2 separate regions of the Homo sapiens genome follow, and region 1 is linked to region 2. The links come from fine-mapping of genetic effects on gene expression. A gene starts in region 2. The other region holds a variant in brackets. All regions are shown on one strand. Distances are between the middles of the regions. Region 1 overlaps TARBP1 (tRNA guanosine 2 -O-methyltransferase TARBP1). Region 2 holds the start of COA6-AS1 (COA6 antisense RNA 1).

What was found. PIP is the estimated chance that this variant, and not a neighbour inherited with it, causes the effect.
Region 1: its variant is the best candidate, but not a certain one, in a credible set for the expression of COA6-AS1 in cerebellar hemisphere (GTEx, PIP 0.60).

Annotation. Positions count from the first base shown.
Region 1 is chr1:234,422,324-234,425,238 of GRCh38, forward strand. The region is part of intron 20 of TARBP1 (tRNA guanosine 2 -O-methyltransferase TARBP1); the gene reads right to left. Among named protein-coding and RNA genes, the nearest start is that of COA6-AS1, 50 kb to the left of the region's middle. The variant C/T (reference allele first, on the strand shown) is at 1,351.
Region 2 is chr1:234,372,162-234,375,076 of GRCh38, forward strand. COA6-AS1 (COA6 antisense RNA 1) reads right to left here and starts at 1,432. Exons shown (of 2, transcript NR_125961.1): 1 at 1,262-1,432; 2 at 646-1,049. COA6 (cytochrome c oxidase assembly factor 6) reads left to right here and starts at 1,295. Exons shown (of 3, transcript NM_001206641.3): 1 at 1,295-1,517; 2 at 2,069-2,228. The coding sequence starts at 1,306. RefSeq lists enhancers at 483-1,307, 1,129-1,678.

The DNA.
Region 1 (2,915 bases), 50 kb after region 2:
CTGAAGAAAATAAAAATCACCAGCCACAACTGACTTCATTAAAAATATGTATTCCACACAATGGAGTACTATTTGGCCATAAAAAAGAATGAGATCCTGTCATCTGCAACAACATGGATGGAACTGGAGGTCATTATGTTCAGTGAAATAAGCCAGGCACAAAAAGACAAACTTCTCATGTTTTCACTTATTTGTGGGAGCTAAAAAATAAAACAATTGAACTCATGGAGATAGAAAATAGAATGATGGTTGCCACAGAGGCTGGGAGGGGTAGTGGTGGTAGGGGGAGGGTGTGGGGATGGCTAATGAGTATAAAAATATACTTAGAATGAATAAGATCTAGTATTTCATAGTATAACAAGGTGGCTACAGTCTACAGTAAGTTATTGTACATTTTAAAATAACTAACAGTATAACTGGATTGTTTGTAACATAAAGCATAAATGCTTGAGGTGACAGATATCTCATTTACCTGATGTAATTATTACACATTGTATGCCTATATCAAAATATCTCATACACCCCATAAATATATACACCTACTATAGACCCACAAAAATTAAACATTTAAAAATATGTATTCCAGCTGTATCTGGGCCTTCATTATTGCTAGACCAATAGTTCTTAAACTGTATCAGCTCCAGAATCACAAGGGCTCATTAAAACAGAGTGCTGGGCACCACCCCCAGAGCTTCTGATTCTGTAGACTGGGGGCAGGGCCTAGGAATATGCATTTCTAACAAGTTCCCAGGGATGCTGACGCTGCTGATCCAGAGACCACACTTTAAGAATTACTGCTCTAGACAAGCATTTTGCTTTTTCTAGTCCGTTTTCCAAAGCAGCTGCACTGTTCTGTATTCCCATTAGTGATGCAGGAGGGCTCCAATTTTGCTACAACCTCACCAATGCTCATTATTTTTAGTTTGTTTTCTTGATAGCCATCCCAGTGGGTACAACTGGCTAGTATTTTGCCTATGTGATTATTGCTGGCCTCTCCCTGTCACTTTTCCCTCTCTACTGCACCACTTCCTTCAACATACAAACATGCTCCAATTATCTCCCATCTTTAAAAAGCCCCTTCTTTAACTCCAGGTTCCCCTCCAGGAACGACCCCTGTTATTCCCCCTTTTCTAGGGCAAACTCCTAAGAGACTCTATACTCACTGTCTCCACTCGCTAAACTCCCATTTTCTTCTGAACTGTTTCTACTTAGATTCTCATCCCACCATGAAACGCCTTTGTCGAGGTGACCAAGACAGCTGAATCCAACAGCCGGCCTGCAACCTCCTCGTCCTCCACGCAGCACTACCTTTCCTCGCTTGGTCTCCAGACAGCATCCTCTCCAGGTGTC[C/T]TCCTTAATTCATCCAGAGCTCAGCCCAAATGTCACCTGATTAGACCCTCCTGACCCCTCTCTCTTTTTTCTGAATTTTTTTTTTTTTTTTTTTTAGAGACGTAGTCTCACTCACTGTGTTGCCCAGGCTGGTTTCTAACTACTGACCTCAAGCAATCCTCCTGCCTTGGCCTCCCAAAGTGCTAGGATTACAGGCGTGAGCCACCATGTCTAGCCCTGACCCCTTATCTAAATAGCTAAATATATATTATAACATGTATTTTTGTTCTGATAGAATACCCATACCCAGCTCCTATCACTTTAAACTCTACTCATCTTTTAGAAAACCAATAACATACTATTTCCTCTGGGACATCTTCCTTGACTCCAACACTACAGAGAGGGAATTGTTGCATAAAAAATATTTCCAAGGTTTTATATAATAAAGCTGACCTGCTACCTTCAGAAAATAAAAGTATGATGAATACTCCTGTTTTAACAGAGGGACTTCCATGAGTTCTGTAGTCATTCATACATCCACACCAAGGTCAGAAAGCAGACCAGGCACTCCGCTGACCTCGGCTTTAAATGACAGGTAACTGTATCTGTCATTTAAACATTACATGGGGAACAGAGCACCATGCTCAACTCTACCCCTTCCTATCTAACTTGTCTCCAGATTTATTAAACCTGTTCTTCAGACACTAGAGTGTTCATTTAGAAATGATTTAGCAGGCTCAAAAACAACCTAACTGGATTGTTTTTATCTGAATAAATAACGAATTTTCATCAGTCTTAGACAAACATCACACACCCAGATCTAGAAATAACAATATATTACAATGGAAGCAAATCCTGGGGTAATCTTTCACGGGCTCTCAAATCACAGCAATCAATTCCTAACATTTGATGCCATTTTCTCAGTTTTTACTTTTTCATTCCATTTCTTACAGAAAGCAATATATGAATATAGTACTCTAAACATAACTGGGGCCAAGCACAGTAGCTCACACCTCTAATCCCAGCACTTTGGGAGGCCAAGGCAAGAGGATCACTTGAGGCCAGGAGTTCGAGACCATTCTGACCAACATGGTGAAACCCTGTCTCTGCTAAAAATACAAAAATTAGGCCAGGCACAGTGGCTCATGCCTGTAATCCCAGCACTCTGGGAGGCCAAGGAGGGTGGATTACCTGAGGTCGGGAGTTCGAGACCAGCCTGACCAACATGGAGAAACCCCGTCTCTACTAAAAATACAAAATTAGCCGGGCATGGTGGCGCATGTCTGTAGTCCCAGCTACTCGGGAGGCTGAGGCAGGAGAATCACTTGAATCCAGGAGGCAGAGGTTGCAATGAGCCAAGATCGCACCTTCGCACTCCAGCCTGGACAACAAGAGCGAAACTCCGTCTCAAAAAAAAAAAAAATTCGCTGGGCATAGTGGTGGATGCCTGTAATCCCAGCTACTCGGGTGGCTGAGGCAGGAGAATCACTTAAACCTGGGAGGCGGAGGTTGCAGTGAGCCGAGATCCCAGATCATGCCATCGCACTCCAGCCTGGGCGACAGAGCAAGACTCTGTCTCAGAAGAA
Region 2 (2,915 bases):
TCGTGTTGTTCTGTACATATTAATTGCGTCATTTTTACATCATGTTATTCACGTTTCCTATATCCTTAACTTTTCTCTTGCTAGTCTTAACGATTAGTGAGAAAGTCCTGTTAAAATTACCCAATATGACCAGGCATTTTTTTTCTTTGTAATTCTGTCACTTCACTTTGTTTCATATGTATTTTTCATTAGGTACTTATAAATTTTAAATTTAAAACACATTTCCTTTTTAGACTCAGAAGTCATCTAAGACTCTTTCCTTTCATTCCTTTTATATCCCATCAGTCATATTTAAAAGATATCTATATGTAAACTGACGTCAATAGACATGATGTAAAAGAAGGGGGTGGCTCTGGTAAAGCTAAAGTAACTCCACTATGAGAGTGCATTAACTATGGGGGAAATACTTTCTATATTGCAGAACACATATTTGGTGGTACGTAGCCTCACATCGCCACCCGGAAAAGTCTGCATATATTGAATTTGGAATGGATCAAACTGCACTGAGTGCAAAATTGTAAATTGCATCTTATATAAATGTTTTAGAACTAGATGATGGAGCAGATGGGATCTATTAAGAGAACGGGGTGCCAGATGACTGACCATAAACATGCTTTTTAATAAAGACTCTGCTGAGAGATTAACTCATATATTTTCTAAAATTTTTATTTCTTGTTCATTTTGTTTCTAAGATATTCACTCACATATTAAAAATAACAACGTCTCAAAACATTTGAAGCAACTCTCTTCATCCCTTTTAAAAATACCTTGCTGTTTCGGGGGTTAAAAAAAGCCACAAGGGAGATTAAAACAATACAAATATTTATTTTCCCAACTCCCCTGCCATGGGTTCTGGGACGTCACCGCCTCTTTCTGGGGCCCGTTTCATCCTTTTCTTTTAATCCAAGAAGCGATGGTGTTGTGCGCCTGTAGTCCCAGCTACCTGGGAGGCAGGCTGAGGTGGGAGGATCTTTTGGGTCCAGGATTTTGAGGCTGCAGTAAGCCGTGTTCTCACCACTGCACTCGAGACTGGGCGGAAGAGCGAGACACTGTATCAAAAACAAAACAAAACAAAACGAGAAGGCATCGCGGCTCTGTAACACTCCGTCCAGCTCTCGCACTCTCAGATGCAAACTTCCACACAAACTCCTCGGCTCGCCTTGTCCCGCGGGACTAGCATATCAAGCCTTCCGGGACACACCGTGCGATGATATATACGTATATACCCCTCTTGCCCTTGAAGGCCGGAAGTCGGTCTTACAGATAAAAGCGAAACAGGAAGTCCCGCCCCTCTATGGAAAGTAAATGGTAGCTCGGAAGGGTCAAAAGAGTCCGCGGTTTCGCCGCGTGAGTTGCTTTTTGCGGCTGGGGAGGTCTACGCTTCTAGAGCTTGAGCCAGCGGGGCGACCCTGCAGTGGCAGGACTCGGCACCGCGCCCTCCACCGCCGGTTGGTGGCCTGCGTGACAGTTTCCTCCCGTCGACATCGAAAGGAAGCCGGACGTGGGCGGGCAGAGAGGTCGGCTTGCTGATGGGTCCGGGTGGGGCGCGCGTGGACTATGGGCCCGGGAGGTCCCTTACTGTCCCCGAGCCGCGGGTTCCTCTTGTGCAAAACGGGGTGGCACTCCAATCGCCTGCTTGGTGATTGTGGCCCCCACACACCTGTTTCTACAGCGCTTAGGTTCGAACAGTAACCCTGTAAACTAGGCACTGCTGTCCCCGCTTTACTGGTGGGAAACGGGCTCGGAGAGAATAAATGAGCTGCCCTAAGCGACTGGGACAGAACCACAGTTCTCAGCCGGGCTTTCTGAGCCCACGCTGCCGCCCCAGCAGGGATCAAATCACACAGTGTGAGATAAGCCTCAAGAGCGGGTGGCCTTATGCTGCCACTGAGAACTGATTGGGTTCAGTTGCCTCATCAAAATCCCTAAGCATGGTTTTGTTTTGTTTTTGTTTTTTTTTTTTTTTTTAGTTTTAAAGGAAGAGGAGATTGACGGTTTTCCTCTTTCCTTATCTTCTCTTCAGATTACAAAGTTCATTGTTAATCTCAAATATTATTTTGGCCAACAGCTTCATCGCAGTAGGAATGGCAGCCCCATCTATGAAGGAAAGACAGGTCTGCTGGGGGGCCCGGGATGAGTACTGGAAGTGTTTAGATGAGAACTTAGAGGATGCTTCTCAATGCAAGAAGTTAAGAAGCTCTTTCGAATCAAGTTGTCCCCAACAGTGGGTAAGTCACACTTTGATGTGTTTCTCTTCCCTGTTAAGATACATCGAGCTTATACTGTGAGTGGTAGGCTGACATGAAGCGCTCTCTGAGGCATGTCAATTAACAGTTTCTTTGAGGCGCAGAGAAAACCTTGCCTGGTAATTCAGCCTTATTTGACGCACTTACATCAGCTAGATCTTTGGAGAATGTCAACTGACACATTAAAGAGCATCGAAAAACACAACAAACATATGAACAGTAACCAAAAAATTCCAGTTCATTTCACTGGTAGACTTTTCCAGGATCTTCTGAAGGGGTAGTATTTAATCTTGGGCAGGAGTTGGCAAAATTATTGACCTAGAGCTACTATCAGAAATAAAGCATTCCCAGTTGCTCACCCAAAAATCCTGTAAGTCATCATATACCCAAAATATAAAGAAAGGAGTTTGGTAAGCAGAAGAAAGAAAAGGTTCATATGGTGGATTCTGTCTCCCTGACAGGCATTCAAGCGCTGTATCCCCTGTCCTTAGTATAAGGGGGGATTGGAAAGAGGACTATTACTGAGGTTAGTAAGTGGCCATGTGTGCTAAGTGCTTGACATTTTCATCTTCACCAGTACCTGTTAAGATAGGTGTTGTTGGCTGGGTGCGGTGGCTCACGCCTGTAATCCCAGCACTTTGGGAGGCTGAGGCGGGCAGATCACGAGGT